Linked DNA regions of Homo sapiens: region 2 is linked to region 1. A link means that fine-mapping ties the variant in region 1 to the expression of a gene that starts in the linked region. Tissue or cell type: subcutaneous fat. Region 1 holds a variant in brackets; the other region holds the start of a gene. All regions are shown on one strand. Distances are from middle to middle.

The links. PIP is the estimated chance that this variant, and not a neighbour inherited with it, causes the effect.
Region 2: SNTG2 starts here. The variant in region 1 is fine-mapped to the expression of SNTG2 in subcutaneous fat (GTEx, PIP 0.95).

The regions. Positions count from the first base shown.
Region 1 is chr2:1,089,560-1,097,662 of GRCh38, forward strand. The region is part of intron 2 of SNTG2 (syntrophin gamma 2); the gene reads left to right. Among named protein-coding and RNA genes, the nearest start is that of SNTG2-AS1, 140 kb to the left of the region's middle. RefSeq lists an enhancer at 1,316-1,817. The variant G/A (reference allele first, on the strand shown) is at 3,319.
Region 2 is chr2:947,297-955,399 of GRCh38, forward strand. SNTG2 (syntrophin gamma 2) reads left to right here and starts at 3,553. Exons shown (of 17, transcript NM_018968.4): 1 at 3,553-3,772. The coding sequence starts at 3,701. It overlaps SNTG2-AS1 (SNTG2 antisense RNA 1), which reads right to left and starts at 4,096. Exons shown (of 3, transcript NR_136151.1): 1 at 3,989-4,096; 2 at 2,615-3,090; 3 at 2,338-2,505. RefSeq lists a silencer at 3,462-3,591.

The DNA.
Region 1 (8,103 bases):
AAGAGGTAGAGCTTGCAGTGAGCCGAGATTGTGCCATTGCACTCCAACCTGGGTGACAGAGCGAAACTCCGTCTCAAAATAATAATAATAATAGTTTACATATGTTTGTGTACGAGGGTGTGTGCACACAAAAGCACACTTTATAAAGAAATCAAATAGCGCGTCACTCAAGTAGAACTTTCAATAACTAAAATCTAACAGCAAAGACAGTTGCATAATCTGCCAAACATTTTTATTTTTTTAAGTATATAATTTTTCAAACCTAAAAAAATTGAAGTGAGCAAACAGAACCCTGTGCAATTATTATTAATATTTATTATATGCCAACATAGCACTAGATTGCTTTGGCTCTGTCTACGTTATTAAAGAGTGAAGTGTGCCTCCACATCTGGAGCCTGACTGCTTCCTCACTGGCCTTTCGGTACTGATGCTCCTACCGACTGTTCCATTTACATTTTTAAATTCTTCCTTCATACGCATTTTTCCACAGACAACATATTTTTTGTGTGTTTTTCAATTGTAGATAAATGGAATGCCATTAGGTGCTCATTTTGCAAACGTTATGCTTTTTAAATGGATCTACAATGCATGAAGATAAAACCTGCTCCATGTAGATCTACTTAGTCCATTCCTTTAAGGACTATGAGTTGTTATATGAACTGTCCAAAGTTGATAAGTTTTCTGCACATTCTTAGTTGGATGTAAGTCCCCACAAGAAAAATTTATATTTTCAATATTACCAACATATTTATTTTAATAAGCCTAACTTTGCAATGATGTGTACATTCGCTAGAAGTTAATCTGGGGCTCATATGTGGTGAGTTCTTGTTACCAGCTGTGAATCCACAACCGTCTGCAGCAAACTTGATTCTTGCTTCCTTGGAGGAAAGAACTGGGTTGAGGGGCAGAAAGAGGTTTAAGTCAGAGGGAGAGAGTGAGGCCAGTTTTAGAGCAGGAGTGAAAGTTTATTAAAAAGTTTTAGAGCAGGAATGAAAGGAAGTGAAGGACATTTGCAAGGGCCGGTGGGTGACTTGAGAGATCAAGAGCCCCATCCAGCCCTTGACTTGGGGTTTTCTCCATTGACATGGTTCCAAGGTTTGCAGCCCCCCTTCCCTGATTCTTCCTTCGGGGTGGGCTGTCTGCATGTACAGGGCCGGCCAGCATTTGGGAGGGGCCGCATGCACTGTGTGTTTCCTGGGGCTGTGCACATGTTCACTTGAGGCGTTTTTCCCTCACCAGTTGAGTCCACCCAGAGGAAAGTCATAGACCAGTTAAATACCACCCTTTTGTCTTGAAGTGTGCATGCTTGAGGCCACTTGCCCAGCTCCTGAGATCTTATCGGGAAGCTGCTTATCTCCAGCCTCAGGTGTTTTCTATCTACCGGGAGACTGCCTTTTCCTGGTACTGGCTGTGCCCAATGATCATTTTAGAGAGAAAGTGTAACAACCACCTGACCACCACCTGATGGTCGCCTGACGTTCTGGGGCTGGGGCCCATCTCCTGCCCTGTTCATGTCTGCTCTGTGATATGGTTGTGAAGAGCGAAGTTGAAGGGCGATGACAGGCCCATTCGCATCTGTGACTAATCTTGGTGGGTGCCCAGCTGACTGGCAAGAGCAGTGCTGCCAGGTGTGGAGCTGGCAGGTGAGAGGCAGCTGACATGGACAGACACCCCTGCTCCTCATCACCTGCCCTGATAGTGCAGGCCAGGCTGACCAGGAAAGCTGCCAGCCCCAGGTCCCTGGACCACTTGGGACAGCTCCCCTGGAGGGCCAGGCCCATCAGTACAGGGGCTGGGGGAGGACAGCTTAGGGTGGAAAAGCCCTGGAAGCTAATTCAGAGGAGAAGAGCATCTTCAGGTTCCTCCTGTACCCCATCAGGGATCGAGGCAGGGGCTCCAGATGGACCAGAGACTCTGATGCCAGGACGCAAACATCATAAGGTCATGGCGGCCGGGGGCCTGGTTCCTGACTGCAGCTCCCAGAGACCCCAGTGCACTGTCCCCGCATCAGGTTAGGGCTACGGGGCCGCTCCCCCATGAAGCCCGCCAAGGGCAGCTTTTGTCATTCCTGGCCTGTGCTTAGACCTGAAGAAACTCATACTCAGGGCTTTGGGTGTGAGAAGCCAGATCCAACTCCTCAAGAAGGTGGAATACTATGGAATCATTGAATTTTTAAAATTTAGGAGTTATCATACACTTTTCAAAACTCTAATCCCAGGATATTGAAATCCTTCTAATAAGGATTTAACATCCAAATTAAGCAAATATGCACAAGAGTTTTCAAGTAACTCTTCTTAGTTTGAAATCATTGCATCCAGACACTGAGAAATAGTTTACTTACTTCAGATGGCAAATCCAGGCTCCCTCAGCCTATTTAGGAAATTTTATTTGAGTGAATTACTTTTAAAAAGTGGAGAGAGATTCAATGCCCCATTCTGAAAAATGCCTTATAGAGTGTTTGCTAAAGCAAAGGGAATGTCCAACTCTGTGGAAGAAACAATGCCTCCTGACTCAACAGCCCCCTCACATAGCCCCAGGGCGAAGTCTGTTAGCACATTGTTTTCTGAAATAAAACTCTATGAGTATTTTTGAAAGTATCTTTCATGTGTGGGTGTGAAATAGAATACTTCAGAATTGTTTTTCTATAAATTTCTAATTTTTAAAATTTAACTTTCAAGCCCTTCAATTAGAGAGAGAAAAAAAAACCCTTATTTTCTAGGTCCCTCGCCTTTCCCACATCTCCATTCTCTCCTTACAAGAGTGAGGCCAGGCCTGTGTGAGGAGTAAGACCTCCAGGGAAGGGAGGGGGATCGACGAGGACCTGGGGAGAGAGCAGGGGGATTAACACCCCAGGTCATCCTGTCCTCACCACAAGAAGGGTTTTGGGCTGAACAAACCTGGGGGCAGGGTCCTGGCTGGTGGCCATGGTACAGGCGCAGTGTTTTACCTGTAGAACTGATTGAAATCTTTCTGGAAACTGCAGTATTAAAATCTGAACATGAGTTTGCAGCCATAACAAATTTAAATTTAGTGTTAAGTCCACAGTTTAAATATCTGAAGTAGAATTGTGAGGCCCATTCATACATGTAATTCAGTAATAACTTGAAGAACAATGTTTTAGAAGACCAGAATAAGAAATATGATCTTATATACCCCCAAACCACTTTTTTGTTGATGAGAAATGTATAATTGATAAGTTATCTATGTCATAGAAAATAGCTCGTTCTTAAAATATGTGGTCAGAAGATAATGTGGAGATAGCTATGTTCTATTATTAATATAATGATGCTGCTACCAAGATGTGAACATTAATTAAAT[G/A]TCATAACATAGTTTGGGATTAAATGATAAAATGCAGAATAATATTTTATGAAAGATTTTATCTGATATGTTTGTGAAAAGAAAAGCAGGATTGACTTTGAAAATAATTTATTGAACAATTACCTTAGATTGCAACCTCCATTCTGTAGAAGTTTTATGATACATTCGATTGTATTCTGAATTTGTTCCTTTGGTGAGTCCCTGGAGCCCCTGAGTATGGTAAGTGAGGAGGCCGTGATTATGGGGGAACGCATGGAATAGGGGAGTCAGGCCATAAATTAGATTCATAATGAGCCTCGGGGCAGCTCACGATCCGCACCTGCTTGTGGGTCCTTGACTTTAAGGGGTATGTACTGGGAGAGCATTGAGGCAGCGGACTGTTTTGGTTGCATTAGAAATGCCTTTTGATGACATTAGTTTGTCTAGATATCAGCTAACAGAGCACTATGGAAATGCTACCCAGAACCTTAAATTAAAGTGATCAGCTGTGGGTTGCCTCTGGGGTCATAAAATAATTAGGATGCAGGAGGCAGGATAACTTCAGCCAGGCTGCTGTGTGAAAAGTTCCAGTTAGAAGCTGCAGAAGTTTTCCTGTTTACTTTTTATCATCCAGTAAGTTTTATAAATCTTGGTTTGAAAAGTAAAGTTCCTAGATATGCTAATGTTAAAATGTTAGAGCCTTCATAATTATATAATGTTCATTTCTAAAAGTGTGAAAACACAAATTGGCTGAGCCTTTTCTCTCAACTTTGACACACTGAAGTCCTGGTGTTTGAATGAGGTGGTTTTAAAATAACGATTTTTCATGGATAAAACTAACCACCTTGGTATTTTTGTTAAACCTGATGGTCTGTAAGGTGCTTTCCACAGTGATCTTCCTTCACTCCTGTTGAGGCAGCTTGGGCTCCACCGTAATAAGGAACCACAGGTGGGCTGGCTTAGGCAGCAGGGACTCCCTTCTCACCGTTCTGGGAGGTGGAAGTCCAACACCAAGGTGCTGTGGGTTTGGTTACTGGCAAGGGCTGCCTTCCTGGCTTGCAGGCGAAGGCCTTATAGGTGTGTCCTCATATGGTAGAGTTACTGGCAAGGGCTGGCTTCCTGGACTGCAGGCGAAGGCCTTATAGGTGTGTCCTCATATGGTAGAGTTACTGGCAAGGGCCAGCTTCCTGGCTTGCAGGCGAAGGCCTTATAGGTGTGTCCTCATATGGTAGAGTTACTGGCAAAGGGCTGCCTTCCTGGCTTGCAGGCGAAGGCCTTATAGGTGTGTCCTCATATGGTAGAGTTACTGGCAAGGGCCAGCTTCCTGGCCTGCAGGCAAAGGCCTTATAGGTGTGTCCTCATATGGTAGAGTTACTGGCAAGGGCCAGCTTCCTGGCCTGCAGGCAAAGGCCTTATAGGTGTGTCCTCATATGGTAGAGTTACTGGCAAGGGCCGGCTTCCTGGACTGCAGGCGAAGGCCTTATAGGTGTGTCCTCATATGGTAGAGTTACTGGCAAGGGCTGGCTTCCTGGACTGCAGGCGAAGGCCTTGTAGGTGTGTCCTCATATGGTAGAGTTACTGGCAAGGGCCAGCTTCCTGGCCTGCAGGCAAAGGCCTTATAGGTGTGTCCTCATATGGTAGAGTTACTGGCAAGGGCTGGCTTCCTGGACTGCAGGCGAAGGCCTTATAGGTGTGTCCTCATATGGTAGAGTTACTGGCAAGGGCCGGCTTCCTGGACTGCAGGCGAAGGCCTTATAGGTGTGTCCTCATATGGTAGAGTTACTGGCAAGGGCTGGCTTCCTGGACTGCAGGCGAAGGCCTTATAGGTGTGTCCTCATATGGTAGAGTTACTGGCAAGGGCTGGCTTCCTGGACTGCAGGCGAAGGCCTTATAGGTGTGTCCTCATATGGTAGAGTTACTGGCAAGGGCCAGCTTACTGGCCTGCAGGCAAAGGCCTTATAGGTGTGTCCTCATGTGGTAGAGTTACTGGCAAGGGCTGGCTTCCTGGGCTGCAGGCGAAGGCCTTATAGGTGTGTCCTCATATGGTAGAGTTACTGGCAAGGGCTGGCTTCCTGGACTGCAGGCGAAGGCCTTATAGGTGTGTCCTCATATGGTAGAGTTACTGGCAAGGGCCAGCTTCCTGGCCTGCAGGCAAAGGCCTTATATGTGTGTCCTCACATGGTAGAGACAGCGAGGTGGGGGTGGGGAGAGAAAGAGCAAGAGAGAAAAAAGAGAAAAAAAAAGAGAGAGAGAGAGCGCTGTATCTGCTGTCTTTTCCTGTTCCAACCCTATCAGATAGGGCCCACCTGAATGACCTCATCTGACCTTAGTTACCTCCTACAGGCCCTACCTCCAATGCAGTCACACTGGAGGTCAGGACTTCAACACGGATTTTAGGGGGACACAGTCCCATTCCCAGCACTTCCTATTAGGGCTCACAGTACAGCTCTCACTTTCCAGATGCAGAAACTTGATTTTAGAGAGATTTAGAGACCTAAATACCTAAATGGCTAGTACAAATGTACACAGAAAGGAACATTTCAAGAGACTGCACAAAGCAGGTATGAAATAAATATTATTCTGGCTTAGCTAAAATCATAGAGAACAAGCCCTTCACATTCCAGTAAACATATATTTATGTTGGTTGTTAATGGTGTAATTTTTTTCTTACCTATCTTGTTAAGAATATTAGTCCAGATTTTACCACAGGTGATCAGTTTCTTGATATTTTCTTTGAAATATCAAGGATATTTTAGGGTATTTCAGGATATCTTCCTGACATGTATAAGTGAGTCAAATGACAGTTTTAAAATGTCATTCTTTGGCAGTCTATCAAGGCAGAAACTAACTTGTTTCTTCTCAAAATGTATTTTCTCTCGTCTTGTACTTGCTTGCATGAGTTTCAAATACTTACACTAACAGCTACAATTTTAAAATGTTATTGAGCATTTTCAGAAATTCCATACAGAGAGGCCTCCAGTTACTATGACGTAGATAATTCAATTTTCTCATCCTCCATAGCCTTAGAACTCAGAAGCGTAAGGCTGTTTGCTGTGGCACACAGAGGAGCAGCTGGCAGGTGGACGGACGCCTTTCTCCCCACTCCCTCAGTTGGCCATGAACACTACAGAATTTAGCGTCTGCTGAGGGAGGGAATGAACCCCCCCTTGGTTCTGCAGTCCACATTCATTGTGAGATGCATTCTGGCCTGCAAAGTCAACCGTCCATGTGTTGAGGAGGAAAACGGTATGCCTCCCACATGCAGGAGTAACTCCCTCTCCCTCCTCTATAGAGGATATCCTTGGAAACCCTCTGTCCACATAATGGGATTTATTTATTCAGCTTTATTGAGCTACAACTAATAAAAATTGTACATGCTTAAGGTGTACAGGGTATGTTCTCATATGCATATACATTGTGAAATGCACACTACAAACAAGCTAATACATACATCACCTCTTACAGTTACCTTTGTTTTTTGTGGTGAGGACATGTAAGGTTTATTCTCTTAGCAAATTTTAAGGAAATATGGTATTATTAACCATAGTCACCATGCTTTCCATTAGAGCCACAGAACTTGTTTACCTTACAGCTGAAATGTTGCACCCTTTGGCCTGCACCTCCGCCCCCCAACCCTGAACGCCCCTGGTAAACACGGTTCTACCCTCTGCTTCTGCGTTCAACATCCTTAGATTCCACATGCAGGAGACCGTGTGGTATTTGTCTTTCTGCGCCTGGCTTATTCGACTCGGCACAGTGTCCTCCAGGCTCATCCATGTTGCCACAGATGGCAGGATTTCCTTCTTTATGGCTGAAGGATGTTCCATTCGGTGTATCTACTGCATCTTCTTTATTCTCGCATCTACTGGTGGACACTTGGGTTGTATCCATATCTTGGCTGTTGTCAGTAATGCTTTGATGAGCAGGTTTAAGAGCCTGTTACTCTGTCCATTGGTGCAGTGTCACTGGGAAGCATCTGTGGCATTTCAGGTAAATACTGAGAATGTGGATGCAATGAGAGCCCGTGGTATGGATGTCCCAGGAGTGGCTCTGACTTTGCTGTTCACAGTATCTGGAATACAGTCTAACACCAAGAAAAAGCCAAAACGATCACTCTGTAGCAAAGCCCCCGAAATACGGCTCTTTTTCTGTGTATAAAATTATTTTTGTCAGTTAAAAATACTATATGTCCAAAAAGGATCGAAATGGTAAAATTTCCAATTAAAGTATTATTTGCTGTGTCCCCATATACACACTTTAACACAGGTATATTTGCTCTAATTTTTGGTTTCTTTCCTTTGAGTTTATGAAGTATTTCCCCCTAAGAAGGACATTCCTGGGGTATCTCAGGCTGCGGAAGCCCTCACAGCAGCCTCCCTGCATCTGCACCTGCACCGCTGGCCGGGGCGGGAGCTCCCAGGTCCCCCCTTCGGCGTGGGCTCTGCCACCCTTTTACTTCTTTGTCCTTGCTTTGCACAGCAGATTCCTTTCAGAGCCATTCAGCCTGAACATGCTCATGTTTCCTCTTAGAACTCAAAGAATGTCTGTCACTTCTGTTTTTCCTGTAGTGTATTTTTGAGGTAAAAGCACCCTTTGGCCACTGTCCGTCTACCCCAGGCTGCCTCTGTGCGCCCCCTCAGAGCAGCACCAGTCACTCATGTCTACCTGAAGTTGGCAACAGTCGCATTCATCAGATTAGACCACAGCAAAACATAGGTGCATGGCTTAATGCGCAAGAGATTTGGAGATTTTTTACCATTTCACTAGCCAGTTAAAGGCCTATTGTGCTTTTAGCTTTTTATCACA
Region 2 (8,103 bases), 140 kb before region 1:
AAAAAGAAATCATGCTAGTTTTGCTATCACATTTCAAACTGCAAACGTTACGGCTGCAGTGAGTGATAAGTGCCTATTTAAGACGGAAAAGACGCTGAACTTGTAGGTAGAAGACATGAGCGGAAAGGTGTTCCCACCGAGGGCACGTCAGCGCAGAAAGCACAATCCCATGGGAAGACTTCAGCAGTCAGTCCCCCAAAGTGAGTGACACTGAGCCATTCATGGCAAGTGAGGCATAGCTACACTGATTTAGGAGTGGGCTTGTCACGAAACCAAAAACCAAAAACCAAAAAACTGGAGAGGCTGTGTTTGCCAGTGAAGAAGCTGCTGCCATATTTCCGGCAGAGTTGAAGTTGATTAAAGGGAAAGGATGCCATCCAAAGCAAGTCTTCAATTGCAGTGAGACCAGGCTCCTCTGGAAGAAGATACCCAACAGAACCTACGTTCTTGAAAGGGCAAAGAAGGCCCCAGGGCATAAAACACTGAAGGGCTGATTTACCCTGTGCCGTGTGCAATGCTGTAGGACGTGTGGCCAAGCCAGGTGTGCTGCACACACAGAGGAACACTTATGCTCAAAAAACAAACGTTACCTGCTTGTGTTCAGGCAACATAACCAGAAAGCATGAGTGGTAACCACCATGTTTATGGAAGGGCTCCACCAGTACTTCCTCCCAAAGCCTTGGAAGGGGGAAGGTTGGAATATAAAGTCTCATTAGTAACAGACAATGTACCTGGCCATTCTGAATATGTTGACTATAAAAATGACAAGGCCAAGGTTGTATTATTATTAAGACCGGGTCTCACTCTGTCGCCCAAGCTGGAGCGCAGTGGCATGATCTCGGCTCAATGCAACCTCCGCCTCCAGGGTTCAAGGGATTCTCCAGCCTCAGCATCCCTAGTAGCTGGGACCACAGGTGCATGCCACCATGCCTGGCTAATTTTTGTATTTTTTTGTAGAGACGCGGTTTTACCATGTTGCCCAGGCTGGTCTCAAACACCTGAGCTCAAAGCAATCTACCTGCCTTGGCCTCCCGAATTGCTGGGATTACAGGTGTGAAGCACTGTGCCCGGCCTCAAGGTTGTATTTTTACCTTGAAATACAACCTCATTGCTCCTGCCTTTTGACCAGGGCATCTTCCAGTTTGTCTAGGCCACATACATCAGTTTGGTCAGCAATTGATGCATACATATATATGCATATATATATATATATATATATGCATGCAATTGATACATATATATATGCATGCAATTGATACATATATATACACACATACATAGTTCAGTACTATCCACGGTATCAGGCAGCCACTGGGGGTCTTGGAACATACCCATGAGGATGAGGGGTTACTGGAGTTTTTTGTACTACATTTAGAAAGTTTCTGTAAATTCAGAATTATTTCAAAGTTAAAAGTTAATAAAGAGACACTAACTGCAACTGGTTTTAGACACATCTCAGAATCAAAGCTATACTCATCACAAAAACCAGAAAGTTGAATTTTGGTAACCTCATGGGGGACATTCCCTCGCAGAGTTTCAGGATAGTCAGGGTTTTACTTTTTATTGTTATTGTTATTGCAGTAGAACCCTAGTATTTAAAATAAGCAAAATAACCCTTACGTGCAGTCCTGACACAGATGCATAAAAGCAGATAGGCAGTTAAAACTTGAATTAATTAGCCTTTCAAAAGCAGCCCCAGAGCGCCTACGACGTCCTGGAATCACAAAATTTTATTATAGAAAGGATTCCAGAGATTGTTAGCCAAAACTACATTATTTTACAAATGAATTAACAATTACCTTTGGTCTGAAAAACAAAAATATATGTGTCTATTCATTTAACGATAAAATTTTAACAAAAACTTGTCTCTCAAAGTCAACATTTATGCATGCAACACGCTGTTTTTCCTTCTTCAGGCCCTGGAATAGAATGTCCCTTTGCAAGGTAATGAGACAATATCTTTGTGCTATTTGTAGACATTTAATTTCTCAGAGATTATATGCACGCTCTTTTAAAAATGCAATTTAAAGGCAAACAATAATCTCTTGTACTTTTTCTTATTCTAGGTTTTGCTACAAATAAAAAGTAATACAATATTTTTTACCAATTCACCCAAGAAGCATATTTTGTAACAGCCACTGTGCCACGTATAAAAAGACCTGGTTTTTGCTATTCAAGAGCTTGTCCTCTGGTTAAACTGAGTGCTAAGAAGTGCTGGCAGACTGCCGTGAAGGTGAAACAGGAATACAGAGAATAGAGAAATGGGGAAGGGCGTCTGTGTTCGAAACCCAGGTCTGCTCAGGGGTCAAGCAAGTCGGAGTCAGAAAAAGTAAAGTGTTTAACATCGAGTTTTCAATATTTATTTGTTTACAATGCGTCACATTCTGCTCCTAGATAGGGTTAACCTCTGAAGACCTCAGATTTCGCTGCTTTTCCTTGCCGTGGAGAGGGAATAAAACGGGCATCGTGGCCTCCGCGATGGGCGCTCGTGCCTGGGTCGAAGGACTGGGGGGCGGAGGATTTGGAAAGGGAGAAAAATACGGGCTGGCTTCTTTTTAAAAAATGTGGGTAGCCTTGCCTGCCCCCGCCGCACTGGAATTTATCCTAAACTTACTTTCATTTACATTAAAACAAGACGATTTGAGTCTACCAAACCCAATACTGCATCTGTGAGGCTCCTTTTGGCACAAACCTGAATGAACAGCGGGAAACGCCGTCTCCCCTGGCGTCTGAGATCTGGGGTCCCCTCCCCACCTGGTCTCCTCGCTCCCGCCCCAGCCCCGTGCGCCCCAGGAGGGCACCGCCGAGCGCCGGGTCCCCGCAGGGTTCGGGAGACTCCGCGGACCGGAGGAGGGATAGGACCCCCGAGCTTTGGGGGCGGGAAGGGAGGGTGGAAGGAGGAGGGGAGCGGGGTTGGGGAAAGTTGGAGCTTCGGTATCTTTTCTCCGGGCCAGGCCGTCCTCGGGGCCCTGCGCTGCGTCTCCAAGTGCTGGGAAGACTCCGCGGGGAAAGGTCTGAGGACGCGGCCGGCTGGCACAGGTGTGGCGGCTTCAGAGGGCCGGGGAGAACCCATGGCTTCGAGGCTGTGGACTAGAAATGTCCCTGATTAGAAGCTGAGAACCTTTGGCCAGGGAGGTGGGGCGGCGGGGAGGGGTCGTCAAGCCGGTCCAGAGCGCGCCCACCTGCGCCACAAGGGAGAAGAGGTGCCCCCCGCCCCCCTCCGCCCACCGCCGCCACGATGCGCCGCGGACCTCGGCGACCCAGCCCGGGTAGAAGCGCGCGCTCCCCTCCTCCAGCCTCGTGCGCCGGCCCCTGCCCCGCCAGCCCCGCTATGGTCCCCCATCCACCCCCGCGGGAGCGCCCCTGTCCCCCCATCCTGCACTTCCCCCAGAGTCGCGCGCCAGTTTCCCGCCCCGTGGAAGCGCCCCTCTCCCGACTTCGGCTGATCCCCGCTCGCCGCCCTCCCCGCGGGTGCGCGCCCGGCCCCTCCCTCGCCCGGGGCGGGTCTGCGTGGGCGGTGCTCCGGGTCGGCGGGCGGAGCTCCGGTTCCCCAGCCCTGCGCCCCGGTGGAGCCCGAGCCGGAGCCGGCAGAGGGGCGCGGGCGCGGACGCGGCGCCTGGCGGGGCCCTGGGAGGCTCGGACGGGGTCCTGGCGTTGAGCTCGGCCGGCCCGGAGCGCGGACCCAGCCGCAGGGGCGGCGATGGGCACCGAGGGACCCCCGCCCCCGGCCGCCTCCCGCGGACGCCAGGGCTGCCTGCTGGTACCTGCGCGGGTGAGTGCGGCCCCTCAGCGCCCCTTCACCTCCGGCCCCCCTTCCCTCTCCTTCGCGCCCTTCTCCCCCCGCCCCTCCTCCCTCCACGCCCCCTCGCTCCCCGCGACCCCTTCCCTGTCTCCGGGGACGGCTGGCCGGAGGGTGGGCGCCGGAGCCCCGGGACGCAGTGGGCACCCGCCCCCTGGCCGCTCTGCTCCCTCCAGCCCAGTGTCTTACTGGAAACTTGCAGGCTTTGCTCCTCCAGCGTCTTCCAAGGTTTGGTTTTGAGGCGCCCGGGCTTCCCTTTACTGCGTGGGAAGTAGTGCTTTCCAGAATTTGGGATTTGAGATTGGCCCGGCATTGCTTCCCAGGAGCGGCTCTTTCGGGCCCAGGCGGTGGCTCGGACCGGAGCGTCCCCCCTGCAGCCTTCGGGCGCCCAGGCCAGGTCTGAGTTGGCCAGTTTGAGCCCAGCCAGGTGCATGGCGCGGCCTCGGCAGGTGCTGGGGGCTCTAGGCCATTCGGGGAACCGCTGGGACGCCAACTGGGTAATACGGATTTCTTTTTTGAAGTCTATTCTGGTTCCCACCCTAAATAACTCCCTCTTCACCTTCTTATTTTTAAATAACTAAACTATTGATTGACAGAAAACAGAAATGTTGGCCCAAAGAAAAACGAAAAGTTCTTGGAAACCTTCAAGTTGCCACCCACAGCACAGCCTCGAGTTGTGAAAACAGTTTAAGGGAGCACGTGGCCACCCCAGCCCTAGGAGGCTGCCGAGAAGCGCGGCTGTTAATGAAAATGCATTGACAACCACTCCTTTAGGATTCCTTCCCCAGGAGCTCCCAGTCCCAGGAGCGACCAGGAATACAGTTAGCCCTCCCTTATAGGACAGTGGAGAGACGGTTCAGAAGGCCACGGGTTGAGGGCTGCTACAAATTCCTATCGTCATAATAATGATTCTAAACTAGGACTGTGGTCGTCGCTACTGTGATGTTAAAAAGATTTCTATGTAGAGACAGGTGCATCTTCATTCAAGTAGCACCTTTCTGGGCTTTTACTACAAAATATGAAAATTAAATTTCATGTAAAATGTGGGTGTTCGTTTCTTGAAGTACTTTGTAATATGAATAGCTATCCCACTGTTGCCCATGGTAATCAAACCCGAGAAAATATGCGGGGATTACCTGGAAATAAACCGCAGTAAAAACTGCAGGCGCTGTGGAATCACAGGCTTTCCGTCTGGTCACTGCCTTCAGCTTTATAATGATGCCCTCCCACGGTTAGGGATTGTGCATTTTTCTCCAGACATTCGAGCAAAGCAATTCTTGCTTTTAATCATTGTAATTATAGCGGAAGCGTTGAAGTGGATTCATCATACTTCATGATTGACCCACTTGATGAGTTATTGGCAATAACGTCAACAAATAAAGCAACTGCGCGTATTCTAGTAAATGCTCTCCTTTGCGCTCAGTATTAATTAAGGTGCTAAATTTGATGTTTTCCAGTCAAGAGTGGCCTCTGCTCACCTGTTTGCTACAAGATGTGATTGGCGCTTTCTTTCTAATAAGGACCTTGATTATTTGAAACAGCCTGTCTGAATTGTATTGAAAGAAACTTTTTTTTTAGCGTTGGAGGCCAAGTATTACAATAAGATGGAGCATTTTAAGAGCAAGACTCCTAACTTTGCAGTCATAAGTAATTAGGTATGTGCTAAGCCTACCTTAGACACCAGTGCATGGTCATGTTAGCTCAGATTCTTATGTATTTAAAACGAATCTGTTAAGTATTGGTGTTGGCAGGTTTGTCTTGAAAACATGAATGTTCTTAGTATACAATGTCATCCTTACTTAATGGCAGAATTATTTTCTTACCATAACTGCACAATATTATTCAACTTGTGTAATTATTTAATCATTTCAGTTAAGAGAACTTGGTGCTTTTAACTAGAAAAAGATGAAAGTCTTTTCTAAATCTTATATTTCTAGTTATATTTTTTCTATCTGAAGTCAAAACTATACACATTCTTTATCATGACTGCTTGTTTGAATCATGGAATTTGGCCACGTTTGAAGGTCTCCTGTTCGGTAACAGACCTGTTTTGTTTCCCCTTTCAAGTGCCTGTTCCCGATGTTTTTTTCTAAGTTAAGTGAGTTCATGGAGCTCTGTCTCTGACCATACCTGGATTTGAGGGGTAAAATCCCACTGGCAGACAACCTCAGTACAATGTGCGAAGTGTGTCTTGCTTGTAGCTTCAAAGACTACTATTGGTTGATGTTTACAGCACATTTGCTGCTTTTAAATGACAACACTTCTTCAGTCTGGGGCGCTGGAAGAATTATTGGCATGAGCCGGGAACATGCCCATTTATGTGATGAGCTTGCCCACTGAAGGGGGAAAGCACGTTAGGTCATTTTAAAGGTGCATGTGGGGTAAGGGCACCACCTAATCATCTGTTTACAGATGTGAATTGCTGCATGAGATGAATGAAGCATCTGAGCTCCTAAGAAGGTTCCCCATTCCTTCTATGCTTTGGTTATGTTTCTCATCCTTGCTGACTCATCTTTAATTTCAACTGTAGAATTTCTATTGACGTCTATGACATCATAAGCAAAATCCATGCATTACAAAGCAGGCAGTTACCTGACTTTACCAGGAGACATGGAGACATGTTCCCCAGTAAATATTTGAATGAGGTCCAATTAAGAAAAGTGTGCCTTGTTTTTGTTTTTGTTTTTTTCCAACATGGGATGTTAAAATTGCCTTGTTTTCTGAATGGTGTATGTGGAGCAACAGCTTCTTGTCTCTGGATATCTTTATGGATGATGACTGTAGACAAGGCATTTAAGCTTCAGTTTTAATTTAGATCTGCTTCTCAAGATACCCCATGAGGCTCTGAGTGAGTTGGCAGAGGGGCTGGCATTGCAGTTCTCGGTGACAGAGGGTGTGTTTGCATCGCAGGCCTCCTATTTACTAAATGGGTATATTCAGGATAGACTTACTAAGCAGTGTGATTTTCTGGCTTTCCTGTTAGCTCATGTAGCATGTGACAGCAGGCACACGAGGGACCCCAAAGAGGAGCTGCTCTCAGGCTCTGCTGCGCACCCCTAGCTCCTGCGCTGCTGGGCATGGGGCGGACACAGGCAGGTGCTCGTGGAAATGGAGAAGGAAGGAGGGAGATCAGGGTTCCAGGGAACTCAGAGAACCCCGGCTTCGGGAACCACCATCCTCTCTGGCTCTGGCTTCTCACCTGTGGAATGTGTGCTTGGGTTCCGAAGGTCACTTTGTATCTGATTCCAAATCCCTCAGAAACTCACTCTTTAATTAGTTCTAGAGGTATTTTTGTTGAGTGAGACACAACAAGGAAGGTGGAAAACATGCTTTTGGAGGAAAAATGCACTCAGGATTTAATGGAAAATGGACCTTGAACTGGTGTGTACTTGTCATTGTTGTCCAGCTGGTTACCGCATGTTGTCATGACTGTAGTTTTGAATAGTCGACTTTGGATTATTTTCAGCTAACACTAGATGTCACTTTCCCCCAGTCCATACTAAAGTTCCCTGTAAAATTCAGGAAGCCGAGGTTATCCTTCCTATTTCTGTATTAAATGCTAAGCTCCCCTATGTGGGTGTAATCCCTCACCTGAGGACTGACCCCAGCCTGTGGCTCTTCATCCCCTGCCCCTCTGAACAAGAAGGCCCTCCAAAAGCTCACCCATTTCTGGCTGCCTTCCAGGGACCGTGCTGCTTCTTCACCCCATCAGCCTGAACCTTCCTGTTTTCTCCCCTTGCACATTTTAATAAATACTGTTAACAATGCTGTGAATATGAGGATGTGATTTTGCAATTAGAATTACATGTTAAAATAGTTTGCTTTTTAAGGAGTCTACATTTTTACATCCTATAAATATGATTATAAACTAGCTACATTTTAATTTAGCAAAGACTTTGGATTTAAGAAAGTGAGTATGCTTCTTATTTAGGGGATACTGTTCTAAACATTTGTAAAATGTAAAGTTATATTTTTAGTGCAAAAACTATTAAACTTCACAGTCTGCTAACTGCTAAACTGCTAAGTTTTAATTCTGTTTTATCTGTTATACTTTGTAAAGAAACTGCATGTCATTCACTTCTCTGGACTTGAAACCTAGATCAGTGCATGGCCTGTTATTTTGCAATAATCCGCATTAGTGTTAATGAAAAAGGTGACCCTCCACTGTCAAGATTCTGAGTATCAACTCTGGGAGTTACCAACATTCACTCGACATTTGGGTGAACATCATTTGATGATGGCACCGAATCGTGTTATTATAAAAACAATCACATAGAACATTAGAATCAAGTGTCCTAAATATC